Linked DNA regions of Homo sapiens: region 1 is linked to region 2. The links come from fine-mapping of genetic effects on plasma protein levels. Region 2 holds a variant in brackets. A gene starts in the other region. All regions are shown on their forward strands.

The links. PIP is the posterior inclusion probability: the model's chance that the variant is causal. The UK Biobank Pharma Proteomics Project read protein levels with antibody pairs (Olink). The fine-mapping took linkage between variants from a reference panel, not from the people measured, so its PIPs are less certain.
Region 1: OPTC starts here. The variant in region 2 is fine-mapped to the plasma level of the OPTC protein (UK Biobank, PIP above 0.99).

What each region holds. Positions count from the first base shown.
Region 1 is chr1:203,490,502-203,498,816 of GRCh38, forward strand. It overlaps OPTC (opticin), which reads left to right and starts at 3,652. Exons shown (of 8, transcript NM_014359.4): 1 at 3,652-3,716; 2 at 5,464-5,735; 3 at 6,476-6,614; 4 at 8,180-8,315. The coding sequence starts at 5,505. It overlaps PRELP (proline and arginine rich end leucine rich repeat protein), which reads left to right. Exons shown (of 3, transcript NM_002725.4): 3 at 1-851. RefSeq lists an enhancer at 959-1,757 and a silencer at 3,145-3,373.
Region 2 is chr8:134,247,213-134,255,546 of GRCh38, forward strand. No RefSeq gene overlaps it. Among named protein-coding and RNA genes, the nearest start is that of ZFAT, 460 kb to the right of the region's middle. The variant CAGTACTATATAGAT/C (reference allele first, on the strand shown) is at 3,489.

The DNA of each region.
Region 1 (8,315 bases), not on the chromosome of region 2:
AACGGTCGTCTTTCCTGCCCAAGTAAAGCTTACAGACTAACTGGGGAGATGTAGTGTGCATACAAAACAGTAAAAGAGCCATCTCAAGGACAGAGAGCATAGACCAAGTCATCTGGAATGGTCTACATGCCATGCGGAAGTCCACCGAAGGGTTAGAACAGGGTGTCCCAGACTCTCTCTTCTGAGGGAAGGTTGGTTGCAAAAGTGGGATTCATGACCCTCCCAGGCTACACCATCTTCTTTAGAATGAGAACTGCCAGGTGACGCCCTCGCTGCTCCTACCTGGCTACTAAACATCGACTTCGGTTCACTTCACGGATGTTCAGTGGATATCGGTCACATGCCAGGTCCCCAGCTACGCATTCAAGGATGGATAATATACATAGCAGCACATCCTTGAGGAACTCATACCTTGGTAAAGGGAAAGAAATCCATGAATGGATACCTCTGTGTCCTAAGTGTTTGTAATAATGCTGTGTGTCAGGCCTCTGAGCCCAAGCTAAGCCATCATATCCCCTGTGACCTGCATGTGCACATCCAGACGGCTGGTTCCTACCTTAACTGATGATATTCCACCACAAAAGAAGTGAAAATGGCTGGTCCCTGCCTTAACTGATGACATTACCTTGTGAAATTCCTTCTCCTGGCTCATCCTGGCTCAAAAGCTCCCCCACTGAACACCTTGCAACCCCCACCCCTGGCCACCAGAGAACAACCCCCTTTGACTGTAATTTTCCATTACCTACCCACATCTTATAAAATGGCCCCATCCCTATCTCCCTTCGCTGACTCTTTTCGGACTCAGCCCGCCTGCACCCAGGTGAAATAAACAGCCTTGTTGCTCACACAAAGCCTGTTTGGTGGTCGCTTCACACAGACACGAGTGAAACTACTGTGTATGAACAGTATAAAGGAAAGGGCTTTTACCTCTACCTGAGGAAAACCAGAAAGACTCCTACCATGTGAGCTGGCTCTTAAGGGATAAATCAGATTTTGCCAGGTGGATGAAAGAAAAAAAGACGCCACCTGGACAGGAAACAGCATGAGTACAAAGGTAGGAAGGTGTGGAGTCTACCCTGTGGGGCTTGTGTGTCTGAAAAAGAGGAGAGGGTCATGTTCCGGTCATGGAGTGGAGTTATGTGGCTACAAGCCCTCAGCAGGGGATATACCCCTGTCATCCAAAACACAGGAGGGTTCCTGAACTTCCCCGCCTCTCTCTCCCTATCCATGAAAAGGGCAACAACAGGGTTGGCTGGTCAAACTTCTGTCCATACCACCTGCCGCCTCCGATTCATCAACACGCCTTTTGCCTCTCCTAATGAGAGATTAGGATTAGGACGCCTCCCCCGCCTCCTGCTTCCTTTGCCAGGCTCTTGGGGAGCTGGGCTGCCTGGAACAGCAGTCTGCGGGGTTAGCCGTTTCCCCCACCAGGTCACATGTACACATCCATGGACAGCCCCTAATATTCATGAGAACAAGAGTGTGTGACCTGTGAGCTTGGGAAAGCAAGAGGAGAAGTTGGGAGAGGGTCTAGGATGCGAGCCTGAGTCTGGATGTGGCTCCTGCAGGGAGTGGGGGGAGCAGGTGTGTATGCATTGGGGAGGAACGATGGTGGGGGTGTGGCAACCAAGCAGGGATGGCAGGAGCGTATGTCTCTGGGAAAGCAGGGAGGGAGAGTGGGAGCAGGCGGCAGGGAGAGTGAATGAACACTCGCATTTGCATTTCTCCCAGGAATAAATGTGTGGGGTGGGAGCGGGGAGATTGCCTAGGCTGGCTGTGGGGGTGGAGGGCCTCTGGCTGCAAAGCCCAGGCTGTGGAGAGAAGATGGAGGCATACAGCCCGCCAAATGTGCCATCTGCCTACTGGATGCCCTCCAGGATCCAGGGCTATCTTTCCCTCCACCCAGCAGAGCCTCTGATGGTGTCTTTTCCCAGGTGGGGGGCTGCCAGGGGTACAAGAACATGCTCTTCTCTGGTGACCAGGCTCTTGGGCTGAGGGAAGCCCCCTCTTGCACCAGCTGGAGCCCAGGAACACAGCAAGCCAAATGCTGCCCTCGAGGGCCAGGCTATTAGATCTGCCTCTTCACCTGGTGTGCCAGGGCAGAGATGAGTTCTGCCAAGCCATCTGCTCTGAGGGCCTGGAAACACACGGATTCAGGACTCCTGGGGAAGAAGGTGGAAATGGGGAGGGTCATATGAACTAAAGAAAACTCTCTGACCAGGGAGTCAAAAAATCTAGGCATTGGCCCTGGCTCTGTGTGACCTAGGGCAAGTCACGTCACCTCTTTGGGCCTCACTCTCCTCATCTATACCACAAGGACTTGGACTAGATCTTTAGGGGGCCTCACAGCTGGAATTCAGTATCTGGTTGGTGGAAAGGAGTAGGGAACAAGGAGAGTCACTGAGAAACCTGGGTGGGCGCCAGGGCACAGGCTGGCAGAAGCTGGGGAAGACTCCTTAGCCACCCCACCTCTGCCTTCAGCAAGGACTTGCTCGGCAGCCTGCTCGAGGCACCAAGGAAAGGGGAGTGTTTCCAGATGAATGCCGTTGGCCCTCTGTATCTGTGGGTTCCACATCCGTGGATTCAACCAACCACAGATTGAAAATATTCAGAAAAAAAAAAAATTCACAACGTTCCAAAAAGGAAAACTTGAATTTGCTGTGTGCCAGTACTATGTGGAATCCATGTGAATGGAGTGAGGTGTAAGCATTGTGTTTGGTGTTATAGGTAATCTAGAGATGATTTGAAGTACACAGGAGGATGTGCGTAGGTTATGTGCAAATTCACCATTTTATATAAAAGACCTCAGCATATGTGGATTTGGTATCCACTGGACGTGCAGAACCAATCCCCCATGGTTACTGAGGGACGACTGTACATCTCTGAGGGTGCGGGAGAGGATACTTCCCAGGCCCCCGAGACCCTACACAATGTCTACTGGTGTTTATGATCCTTTCTAGGGCCCACCTCCCAATTTCCATTTGGTTTCCTCCTAGCAGATTTAGAGAATTTCCCGTATCCTCATGATCATCATCTGTGAACTTGAAGTTGGCTTTCAAATCCGATCTCATCCCCCATACACCTTCTCTTTGAACTACCTAGGCCTGCAGCTCCTGTCTCTGGTGATTTTATTCAATTATGGTCTCTGTGCTGGCGCTCTAGGTGAGGGTGAAGTGCCTCATTTCCACCTATTTTTATCTTTGGATTCTGGCTATGAAGCTGAAGCCTTGTCACTCTCTGGCTGGAGAAAGAAGCTGCAAAGACAAGCTCTATCTCTCCATATCCCCCGACTCCAGCCTTCTCTGAGGACTCAGAATCTGAGGGATGGGGCCCCTTCCTTGCAGGGGATGGCACTCCCTGTTCCTCAAAGATGTGGCCTTATCAGGAGAGTGGACAAGGAAAAGAAAGAAGGAGCTGACAGAGTAAGAGGAGAGAGAGCAGGAGCTGGAGGTGGGGGGTGAAGCGGAAGGTGGGGGGAGAATTCTCTTTTGTCAAATACAGGAATGGGGCAGGGGACCCCCTGAGGAAAGAGGAGGGGAAACAGCTGGACATCAGAAGGAATGAGAAGTCTGATTGGTCGCAGGCCTGGCCAACTCCTTGCCCTCCCCCGGGCACCACTGTCTAACCCAAGCCCCAGTTCAGACAGCCTCCACCAGAGTCCCCACCTTTCTGGAAGCTGCAGGGCTCTCCATCCAGGATCCAGAAGCATTGAAGGGGTAAGGCTCAAGGTTGAGGCCTCTGGCCATCGGTGCGCAAATGAGGGCAAAGTGTTTGGCTGGGGCAGGGGATTGGGAAGGGAAAATGAAGAGAGTTTAGGCCTCTGGCCAAAGAAGTTGGACAAGACTTTTGGGTGGGCACTAAACTCTCTTAGAAAAATTTTTTTTGAGATTATGTAATTCGTTTGGGGTGAGGTATGGGAGGTAAGGTGAAGAAACACCTCTTGCTACTGCTAGAGGCTTGCCCCCTTGCCCAGCTAAAATTAAGAAAGGGTGGGGAGGTTAACTGGGCATGGTAACACACGCCTGTAGTCCCAGCTACTTGGGAGGCTGAGGCAGGAGGACTGCCTGAGCCCAGGAGGTTAAGGCTTCAGTGAGCTGAGATCATGCCATAACACTCCAGGCTGGGCAACAGAGTGACACCGTCTTAAAAATAGAAAATAAAATAAAAATTAAAAGATAAAAAAAATTTTAAAAGAAAGAAAGAGGGAGAGTCTACTAGAAACTTGTGCAGCTAGCTTTGGGGAGGGCTGTGTTAAGCCTACACTGGGTATGACTGTTGTATACACTTATGCCTGGATACAAAACCACACCACATGCATTTCCTGACCCGTCTATACATATACGAACTACATGAACATTTGTACTCACATGCATATCACATACATACGCAGGCATCTGTGTGCACACACACACAAATATACACAGGTATCTAAGGAAATTTCCAGATGCGTACACACTCATGCAATCACACACAAAGAACTCTTTTATCTGTAATAATCTGTTTCTAAAAAGCTGCATTTAGAAGTATATTTCATAAACTAACATTCTTTTTTACATTGTATGTTTCATTGTAAGTCCATGTCTCCTAAAGAGACTAGGTGCTCCTAGGAAGGGCTGTGCCTCATTCATTCTGTACCCACAGAGACAAGTCCTGTGCCTGGAACTCAATAGACACCCATAAATGTTTGTTGAGCAAATGCATGAATGGATGATCTTTATAAAAAACCACAAGAGTCAACTGGGCGCGGTGGCTCACACCTGTAATTCCAGCACTTTGGGAAGCCAGGGTGGGTGGATCACCTAAGGTCAGGAGTTCGACACCAGCCTGGCCAATATGGTGAAACCCCTTCTCTACTAAAAATACAAAAATTAGCCAGGCATGGTGGGTGCCTGTAATCCCAGCTACTCAGGAGGCTGAGGCAGGAGATTCGCTTGAACCCAGAAGGCGGAGGTTGCAGTGAGCCAAGATCGCACCACTGCACTCCAGCCCGGGAAACAAGAATGAAACTTCGTCTCAAAAAAACAAACAAACAAAAAGACCCCATAAGATTATTTGATGTTGACATTCTCTAAATCGAGCTTAGTGACTAGCAGTCATGTTCTGAGCATGGGGTTGTTTAAGAGAGGACATCTGTGTGCATGCACCAGTGTGTGCCTCGTTTGTAAACAAGGGGACTCTTGTGAATGTGTCTGTGTTGAGATGTGTCTGCACATGCCTCTGTGAGTGAATATCAGTGTTTGGGTGAGCGTGTAAAAACACTCAAGTGGGGCGGTGGAGGGAGGGGGCTGCTAGGAGATACCCCCCAAGACATAGTCCCAGCTGGTAGGGAATTTGTGCATGTGATGAGAGCACTGAGTCTGCAAGTGTGGGGGTGGGAAGTGGAGTAAATCTGCGAGCCATTCCCACAACACTCTGGAGAGCCTGTCCCTCAGATCGCTGCCCTTCCTCGTGCCCACTTGCCAGGACCAGCCGCTGAAGGGATTCTCAGTCCCATCTGACTCCCCATGAGGCTCCTGGCTTTCCTGAGTCTGCTGGCCTTGGTGCTGCAGGAGACAGGGACAGCTTCTCTCCCAAGGAAGGAGAGGAAGAGGAGAGAGGAGCAGATGCCCAGGGAAGGCGATTCCTTTGAAGTTCTGCCTCTGCGGAATGATGTCCTGAACCCAGACAACTATGGTGAAGTCATTGACCTGAGCAACTATGAGGAGCTCACAGATTATGGGGACCAACTCCCCGAGGTGAGGGACACAGCAGACCAACTACATTCCCTGCATGACACTGGGAGTCAGAGGCCAGGGCCCTCCCATCTGCCCCAAAGTGCGGGTGTCTCCAGCCTCCACCTCTTTCTCTGTGAGGTGGAAATTCTTATCCCTCCATAGGGACTTGTCACTTAGATGATACTAAGAAACAGGACACAAACCTGGGACTTCTCCTTCTTCAAAACTCATACTTGCCTCCCCCTGCCAAAGCTATGTCTCACTGGGGGAGGGGTTCGCAATGTCCTCATCATATTCTCTAGGAAATAAAAGTGCCACATCCCCCATCTCTTTTCTGAAACTGTCCTCCAGTCTGAAGTTCTTTCCCAGGTCCTCTTGGCCTTCACTGCAGCAGCGTGGGGTGCAAGCCCAGAAGCCCCTACTCAATTGTGCGTGAGCCTGGTCGGTGTGGAGCAGGGGAAGAGTGCCGGCCTGGGAAATCGGGAGAGCAGGTTTCGTCTCTGCCTTGACCACCTGCTGGCTCTTTGATCCTCATCCCTCTCCTCTCTGGGCCCCAGTTTCTTCATCCATAGGATGGACATGCTGGACCTGATGCTCTGTCAGGTCCCCTTTTTGCACAGTCTTTCTGCTATCCTTCCCTCCTCCTCCTCCACAGTGACTCTTTGCTGGTTTGAAATCCATCACTGAGGTTCCCAGAGTCCAAAGTTAAGTCCCTTTTGTGCAAAAGCTGGGCTACTGTGTACTCTGTGCTACATCTCCAGGTTAAGGTGACTAGCCTCGCTCCTGCAACCAGCATCAGTCCCGCCAAGAGCACTACGGCTCCAGGGACACCCTCGTCAAACCCCACGATGACCAGACCTACTACAGCAGGGCTGCTACTGAGTTCCCAGCCCAACCATGGTAAGTGCACAGTCACATGGTCGCAATATCCCTAGGTCATAGGCCAAGCAGCTATGACCCAGCACCAGGGGGTACCAAAGTGGAACGTGGTTGGGGTTGGGGCATGGAGGGTCAGGGCTACCCTTACTAGCAGGGAGAGAAGGGGAAATAGCCACAGTAAGAACAGGAAAAAAGAAATCAAAGACTGGCACTGGCTGTCCCTAATACTTTTGCCTGAATGTACAAGTTGAGTAAGAAGCAAAGAAATGCAAGAACTCCCTTATGCCCTAGCAAAGCCACCCTGCCTTAATTAATAGCATGACGGGGGAAGCAGGTTGAGTGGTAATTAGATTACAGACAATTAAAAGCCTGTAGAGAAGAATAACTAACTTTGTGGCTGTCACTTGGCATGGGAGCAAATGAAGCAGTCACACTGCTTTTCAGCTTCAAAGTCCCTCCTCAGCAGCTCTCTTTCCTTCCCTGATGCCCTCCTGGAGGCTGCGGCTGGCATCCCTGGCAGTGAGGCCTCAGCAATCTGCTGGAAATCAGAAGTGGGCAGAGGAGGGGTGAAGTTCATTCTGGACCTGCTTGCCCGCGGTTTCCCTGTTCTCTTCTCGGGATGTTTGCCTTGGGTGGACCTGGGGTATTGGGGCATTGGCAGGAAAACCATTCAGTCAGGAATCCATGACCTCTCAGAGCTACAGTCTCAGGCTTAAAGAGGCCATAAAGGGCCTCAGCTGAATCCACCATTCAAAGCCTCAGGATAAGAAAGATGCTGGGGCCCCTCTGCTCTACCCACTCCTCCTGGTCACTGCTGGCAGAGAAGAGCTCCTTAATCTGGGGGCTGTGTCACTGCTACCAGAGTTATTCCTTGAGTTGAGCTAAACTGGTCTCTCAGTAATCTCTGTGCCTTGTGATAGCAAGTGACAGAAACCACCTGCGCTATTCAGTTGTATGATCCAATAAAGTCTCCCCAACTACTTGGGGTGGCTGACCTGGCCTAACCTCATTACCCGTGGGTACAGAGACAGGGTCATGGACAGAACAGGAGAGGGCTGCTTCCCAAAGAAAAATTGGCATGCTGATGCCATAAGAAGGGGAAGTGGTTGCTGGGTAGGCACTGTACTCCACCTTGGTTCTATTGTGCTTCTTGGAGCCACACAGAACATGTCTAATTTCTCTTCCCCAAGGCAGATGGCAGAGCCAGCAACCACTGGCCATCCCACTTAATTCTGGCTTTACTTTTTGGGACCAGAGAGGAATCCTGTGGAAAAGAGACCAAGGGATTTCCTAGAAACACCCACATAGGCCCAGGAAAATGTACACAGAACCAGGGTCTGCTGAAAGTATAAATGGGCTTGGGCTGGGTAGTAACTGAGGATGGACCTGCCTCTCTGGGGTAGAGGACAGAGTGACAGGGGAGCAGACAACAGCACCGTGTACATGGTGCCCGTCAGTTCTGGGCAGCAACCCATAGGCTATCAAAAAGGCACAGATGGCCATGGTTCAGACACTCCCTGGGGCGAGGGCCATTGGCCCCAGAGGCTAAAGAGATCTCCCTTTGTTCTGTCTTCCACCTGGGCCAGGTCTGCCCACCTGCCTGGTCTGCGTGTGCCTCGGTTCCTCTGTGTATTGCGATGACATTGACCTAGAGGACATTCCTCCTCTTCCTCGGAGGACTGCCTACCTGTATGCACGCTTCAACCGCATCAGCCGTATCAG
Region 2 (8,334 bases):
CATTACAATAGCTACAAATAAAATTAAACACCTAAGAATAAACTTAACCAAAGAAGTGAAAGACCTCTACAATGAAAACTGTAAAACAATGATTCAAGCAATTGAAGAGGACACCAAAAAAAGGGAAATATATTCCATGTTCATGTACTGTAAGACTCAATATTATTAAAATGTCCATACTACTCAAAGTGATCTATACATCCAATGCAATCTCTATCAAAATAATAGCAACATTCTTTACAGAATAGAAAACAAAATCCTAAAACTTACATGGAACCAGAAAAGAACCAGAATAGCTAAAGTCATGCTGAGCAAAAAGAACAGAACTGGAAGAATCACATTATCTGATTTCAAATTAAACTAGAACTATAGTAATCAAAAAGGCATGGTACTGGCATAAAAACAGCCATATAGACCAATGGAACAGAATAGACAATCCACAGATAAATTCATACATCTACAGTGAACTCATTTTTGACAAAAGTGCCAAGAATATCCACTGAGAAAAAGACAGTCTCTTCAATAAATAGTGTGTGAAAACTGGCTCTCCATATGTAGAATAATGAAACTAGACCCCTATCCCTCTATCTCTCTCCATATACAAAAATCAAATCAAAATGGATTGAAGATTTAAATTTAAAACCTCAAACTATGAAACTACTAAAAGAAAATATTGGGGAAACTCTCCAGGACATTGTTATGGGCAAAGATTTCTTGAATAATACCCTAAAAGTACAAGCAACCAAAGCAAAGATGGACAAATGGGATCATATCAAGTTAAAAAGCTTCTACAGGGTAAACAAAATGCTCAACAAAGTCAAGAGACAACCTACAGAATGGGGGAAAATATTTGTAAATTATCCATTCCAACAAAAGATTAATAGCCAGAATATGTAAGGAGCTAAAATAATCAGAAAATATATAATCATCTTATTACAAAATGGGCAAAATATCTAAATAGACACTTCTCAAAAGAACACATACAAATGGCAAACAGGATTATGAAAAGATGCTCAACATTATTGATTATCAGAAAAATACAAATCAGAACTACAATAAGGTATCATTTCATCCCATCAGTTAAAATGGCTTTTGTCCTAAAGACAAGCAATAATGAATGCTGGCAAGGATATGGAAAAAAGGCAACACTCATATACTGTTGGTGGGAATGTAAATTAGTATTAAATACAAACATTATGGAGAACAGTATGGAGGGTCCTTTAAAAACTGGAAGTAGAACTACCACAGGATTCAGCACTCCCACTGCTAGGTATGTACCCAAAAGAAAGTAAATCCATTTATTGAAGATAAATCTGCACTACCATTTTTACTGGGGCACTATTCACAATAGCCAAGATTCGAAGCAACCTAAGTGTTCGTTAAGAGATGAATGGATAAAGAAAACATGGCACATATTCACAATGGCGTACTATTCAGCCATAAAAAAGAATGAGATCCTGTCATTTGCAACAACCTGGATGAGACTGGAGGACATTAAATTAAGTGAAATAAGCGAGGCACTGAAAGAAAAACTTTGTATGCTTTCCCTCATTTGTGGGAGCTAAAAAGGTAAATAATTGAACTCATGGAGGTAAAGAGTAGAAGGATGGCTACCAGAGGCTGGGAAGGGTAGTGAGGAAGAAGTGGGGGAAGTGGACATGATTAATGGGTACAGGGATACAGTTAGATAGAATGAATAAGACCTAGTATTTCATAGCACAACAGGGTGACTACAGTTGGCAATAATTTATCATACATTTTAAAATAACTAAAAGTATAATTGGAATGTTTACACAAGGAAATGATAAATGCTTGGGGTGATGAATACACCATATGATTATTATACATTGTATACCTGTATCAAAATATCTCACATACCTCATAAATATACACATCTACTATGTACGCATAAAAGTTAAATTTTTTTAATTACTACAACCACCCTCTTTCTCCCACTCCTCAGCCACAGGTTTTTACATACTTTCCATTAGGAAAGTACCACTCCCATAATAATCACCAGGAGTGGATCGAGGTTTATCCTATCTCTCAGGTATATTGGGACAGGGAAGCAAAAACTGAGGACCTCTGAATTACAGGAGTGTTATGAGAGGATGAAGCATGCCTCCATTACAGCTCGACACTTACTGAGAGCCAATCATGCCCTAAGTGCTACTTTCTAGCACCCAGAGTTCAAAGTCTACAAGATAAATTTGGTCCTAATTGAGATCAGAGTTGACTAGAGCAAAGGAACCTGTAAGTGGAAAGGACAGAAAGTGAGGGAGCAAAACAAAAAACACAAAAGTGGGCATGTGGGGACTATCTGTGTGAGTATACTTGTTTTATCTAATTGGGCTGGGTGGGGTATAGTTGGAAAATTGCCCAGACTAAATGCATCTTAAAATATTGGAAATCCTTCCCCAGCCCTCTCCTCTTTCTGACCCTGTTGCTGCTGCCCCTGCTGAATTTGTCATTCCTAGTACTTGCAGATAACACAGGCACTGGTCATTCCATGGGCTATGGTCTGAATGGCTCCCACAGTTTAAGTGTTGGTGGTACTAAGTTTAACTGTGGTGGTACTAAGAGGTGGGACCTTTTGGGAAGTGATAAAGTGATGAAGACTCTGCTTCAGTGAATGGATGCGTGTCTTTTAAAAGGGTAGACAGGAACTAGCCTAGGCCCTTTTTGTTCTCATGCTCTTCTACCATATGAGGACATATTATTTGTCCCGTCTTGTCCTTTCCATCCCTTTGGCCACATCAGGACACCTAGACAGTGCCACCTATGAGGAAAGAGACCTAACCTGATGCCAAACCTGCCTTGATTTTGGACTTCCCGGCCTCCAGGTCTGTGAGAAATAAATATCTATTGTTCATAAATTACCTAGGCTGTGGTACTTTGTTGTAGGAGTACAAACAAAACTATGACAATATGTCACTGTAAATAACCAAAAGATAAGGTAAAAGTTGATTATTTTCCAATACAACACACATGACACAAGATTACCCTGAAAAAATTGTGTCATAACAATAAATAATATAATTTATTGAGTCCTTACTATGTTCTAGGTATTATACAGAGGATTTTTTTTTTTGAAATGGAGTCTCACTCTGTTGCCCAGTCTGGAGTGCAGTGGTACAATCTCAGCTCACTGCAACCTCCACCTCCTGGGTTTGAGCGATTCTCCTGCCTCAGCCTCCCGAGTAGCTGGGACTACAGGTGCCCACCACCACTCCAGGGTAATTTTTTTTATTTTTAGTAGAGACGGGGTTTCACCGTGTTATCCAGGATGGTCTCCATCTCCTGACCTCATGATCTGCCCACCTCACCTCCCAAAGTGCTGGGCTTACAGGCATGAACCACCGCACCCAGCCTATACAAAGCATTTTACGGTCATTAATACATCTAATTCTCACAACAATACTGTGAAGAGGTATTACCCCTACCTAATGAGCAAGAAACTAAAGCTCAAAAAGACTAAGCAAAATTCT[CAGTACTATATAGAT/C]AGTAAACAGGAGAGCCAGGAATCCAACTCAGTCTGTAATTGTGGTTTGATGGGTCCAAATAGAACACCCGCCGAGTTCCAATCAACTGACATATGGTGATATGAAATCAGACAGACGGAAATTCTAATGCCAGCTTCATGACCAGTGAAAATAAATTAGGAAACAGGACATGGCTAAGCTGGGCAACCAAACAAGCTTATAATGTTCCTGGGAATTAAGGTGGCCCTTCCTCCAAAATGCAGGTCCCTGTGGCCCAGTGTACTTTACAAAGAGCCCAGATTAGAATGCTTTCCATTTGCAGGTTCACCCCAAAAAGAGAGGAGGCCACAAGTCAGGGCCCCTCAAACCCAGTGTGTCCATTGGGCACAAGGGGCCAGGAGTACTGTGTTAGGAAGTCTTTTAAAGCAAAACGAAGGAGCAAGAAACAAACAATCCACCCTAACATTTCTTTGACCTTGGCCCTCTTAGTTCATTGGGGTTTGATTTTTAATCTAACCCAAAACAGGAGTGAGGCTATGCTTTTCAGGGGAGGACCTCACATTCAATACCAACCGCTCTTCCAGTGTCACCCTGAAACTGTGGATGGGTAATTTAGATTTTGCCTGTAAAAGTTTCTAAAATTATCTGAATAATCAATTCATTACATGAACTTCAGAAACCTCTACATACAAGCTGAAAATGTACTACTAGTTCTTTTTCCCACCTCCAGTTATGTTGAGACAAATTGTCTAATACTACTCATGGGAGATTCTGTGATAAGTTTTAAGAATGACAGAAAGATACCTTGATAACTTGAAGTCAATTACATGGAAATGCCCTGAAGTTGAATAAAAACCAGCCTCATTATTGTATTTGCAGAAAGAAATTAAACTCCAGAGATTCAAGTCCTTTTGCAAGATAAAATATGAAGCATTTGTTGTGTAAAGGAAGTAAAGGCCCAAATAAATTCTCTTGCCTTTGTCAGCTAAAAGTCTGTGGCCTATGGCAGAGCTTTTCACTAAGATTCAAGGTCCTGGCTAGGCACGGTGACTCATGCCTATAATCCCAGCACTTTGGGAGGCCAAGTCAGGTGGATCATTTGAGGTCAGGAGTTCAAGACCAGCCTGGTCAACATGATGGAACTCTGTAGCTACTAAAAATACAAAAATTAGCCAGGCGTGGTAGCACATGCTTGTAATCCCAGCTGCTGGGGAGGCTGAGGCAGGAGAATTGCTTGAATCCGGGAGGTGGAGGTTGCAGTGAGCTGAGATTGCACCATTGCACTCCAGCCTGGGTGAAGAAGTGAGACTCCATCACAAAACAGACAAAAATAAAGATTCAAGGTCCTCTTTCATGATATAGAATTGTTATTTGGAATTGGCTGCCAATCCCACATTGCAGACTCCCTTTCATCTAAGTGTGGCCAAATAGTTGAGTTCTGCCAATGAGATGGGGGCAGAAGTGGTATGTTCCCCCAGGTCCAGACCAGGTTCATAAAAGCCTGGATATGTTCCTCCATTCTCTCTCATTTGTCCCCTCCACCTGATGAATATCTACAACAAGAATAACCCTACAGATCACGCAACCATGTTACCAAAGTCTTCATCAGAATGAGTTTTCATAGGACTGCATAGGGCAAACACTCTATCACCACAAAAGACAGAATTTTATGTCAAAAGTCCAGGGTTTGCTTGTTATGGCAACTAGCATTAACGTAATCAACAGAAAGTCTTAAAAAGTCAAAAATTCAACATCCCTAATTTTGGTTTTATTATGCTCAACCTCAGCCTAGACTTTCATTCAGAGGTATAGCTGAGGTAGAGATAAGACTGAGGTTCCTTCAGGAGTCCCGTCTGGGCTGTTCGTTTAGACATCCATTTATTTAGGACTACAACAAAAAATGTTCTTTTGAGCTTCATGATTTTAAGAGTCTAAACTGTTAACAGAATGCATAAGATTATCACAGCCCTGGGCCCACACTCATGACATTGGAAAAGTAAATCCTCAGTTCCTAGGGCAATTTTACCAAGCAAAATGATGTTCCCAGAACGTAAGAATGGATAGCCACCAAAAATGAAACTGAGAGAAGGGGAGGGTAGGGGAAAGTGATCTTTCTCAACATCATCATGACCAAGTCACTGCTCATTCTAACGATGATTGTCCAGGGCTCGTGACTTGTGAGACTAAACACGGCACTCTCTACCAGATGGAGTGTCATAAAACCATGTTACGACACTGGTTTGCCATATTGAGTAGGGAAATCCACCCATGCATGCTTTTTCATTTTCCAGAGAGTAGCATTTGAGAGTTGCCAAATTAGCACAGTTTCAAATGTTACGATGGTGACACTCTCAGTCATCAGTTCTTACTCAAGATGTTTTTAATTTCCATCCTGCATCTTCCAACATCTCAATTTCCATTTCCCTCTGAGTCTTAAGGGTCTGGCACCCCTACTTTTAAATTTAACAAGCATTCCAACTTATTGGAATAAGCCCCACAGTCTCCTGGGAGCATGTCTCTGCTCCTGTGTCCCAGTGGTTGTCTACTCTGCTTCCTAGTTGGAATTGCTTACATTCAAGATATCAATTTCATAGGGTATTTTTTTCCTCTAGTTTCCACATTTTTTCTCACTGGGGAATCATCTTTAATGGGTTACTGAACAGCAACCATTATTGATGTTTCTGAGGCACATGTCCTAGGGAAAGAGGGAGGACAAATACCTCTGCAACGTGCCCTTAAGATGCTGCCTCAGGTTTTTAAAGTTCCTTTCTTGGACAACCTTTCTTTCTTCCATCTCTCCTTTTATTTCTTGTCTATTTGGACATACTACCACTCATTCATTTCCATCTGTTGTTCACCTACTTAGACTCAGCTGAGTTTTTAAGAGTTTAACCTGCCTCATATGTGGTTCCCTTTCTCTCTCTAACACACCTAAGCTAGCTCATTTACCAGAATGAAGTGCCTTTCTTTGTTTTGTTTCCCCTTCGCTTTTGGATAGTATAATATACAGACTTCTAGAGCTTTTCTCAACAAAAACGACACTAATCTTCATCCTCTCCTCATTTTGCTTTGAACCCATCTTTCCAGAGGGCACAGGCAGCAACAAGGGAGAGACATTGCCCCACCATTCACTGATGAACCTGCGGTGGTTCCCACACTGGCAAAGTTTCATTAAGCACTTCAGCACACTGGTACAACTGCTGCCAACAGTTAGGCTTCAGCACACGTCTCTGCAGCATCCAGGAGCTGACACCACCCAGCCTGAAGCTCTCACCACCACTGAAATCCTCCAAGGAAGTGCCATGCATTGCCAGCAGCTGCTTTCATGACTTGCAGACATGTAGGCTGGATTTGTTAGCTCCTTATCAACTTGCAAATGACTTTGACAAATTTTCTTGTTTGTTTTTTTTCTTTTGAGGAAATGTTTGGATTGCTATTGCAGTCTTGTTTATAAGGCAATTAAAGCAGGAAGCAATTATCATCAATTATCATGTAAGACTAGCTACTGTCTTGTAATTACTGTGTTAATTGGCATTAAGTTTAGGTAGAAATTATTGTTGCCCACTTCCAACTAAAAAGTAAAGAATGTCATGTCAGGAGTGAAGAAAGCACATCTAAAATATAGTTTTCCCTTTAAAGAAATTTTATCTAGAGAGCACGTTTCTTAATGTTTGTATATTTCTCATTGCTTAAGTCATTCATTCAAAAGTTGATGATGATGATGATGATGATGATGATGATGATGATGATGATGTGATAGACAGCTTCTAAGATGGCTTCCAATAATCCATGCTTCCTAGCTTTCATGCCCTTGTATAGAAGTGACTCATATAGCCAATAGGATATAAACAAAAGGATGGCATGTGACTTCCAAAGTTAGGGCATGAAAGTTATTTTAGGGACCATCATGCTCTCCTGGATTGCTCAGTCTATAAAAAGCTGTCAAGAGAACCAATATGTCAAAAGACCCTCAACTCTGTGGAGAGATCAACATGGCATTGAACTGAGGCCACACACCAACCAGCCCATACCAACTTTCTGCCATGCCAGTGAACCACTGTAGAAATGGATCCTGCAGCCCTAGTCAAGTCTTTCAAAGACTGTAACCCCAGCTCACGATGTAGCTCAATCTCTTGAAAGACTCTAAGCCATATCTACCTAGCTAAGTACTTTCCAAATGACTGTCTCATAGAAATTGTAAGTAATAATGAACATTTGTTGTTTTAAGCCACTAAATTCTGAGGTAGATTATTATCCAACAGTAGATAATTGATACAGATGGTGATTATTATTGTTAATGACTATGGTGGTGATTCCACCTCTCATCCCCTAGGAAGAGAAAATGTACAATCAGACATGGGATTTGCCCTTTAAGAAAATGACAGCCTTAATAAAAGATAAACCACAAGGTAACTCACTTAGCACTAAAATAAGATTACTTATTTAGATTCTGGTTTTATAGTTGCATTGTGGTTTTTGATTTGTTTTGTTTTGTTTTTTGAGACAGGTTCTCACTCTCTTTCCCAGACTGAAGGGCAGTGGTACAACTGCGGCTCACTGTAGCCTCAATCTTCCAGGCCCAAGCCATCCTCCTGACTCAGCCTCCTGAGTAGCTAGGCCAAAGGTGCATGCCACCATGCCTGGCTAATTTTTTTAATTTTTTTTTTTTTTTTTTTTTTTTAGATTCAGTGTCTCACTATGGTGCCCAGTCTGGTCTCGAACTCCTGGGCTCAATCTTCCCACCTCAGCCTCCCAAAGTGTTGGTATTACAGGCGTGAGCCACCATGCCTGGCCTATAGTTGCATTCTCTTAATAATGAAGTAGAGTAAGGACCTAGATATTTTGACAGCAG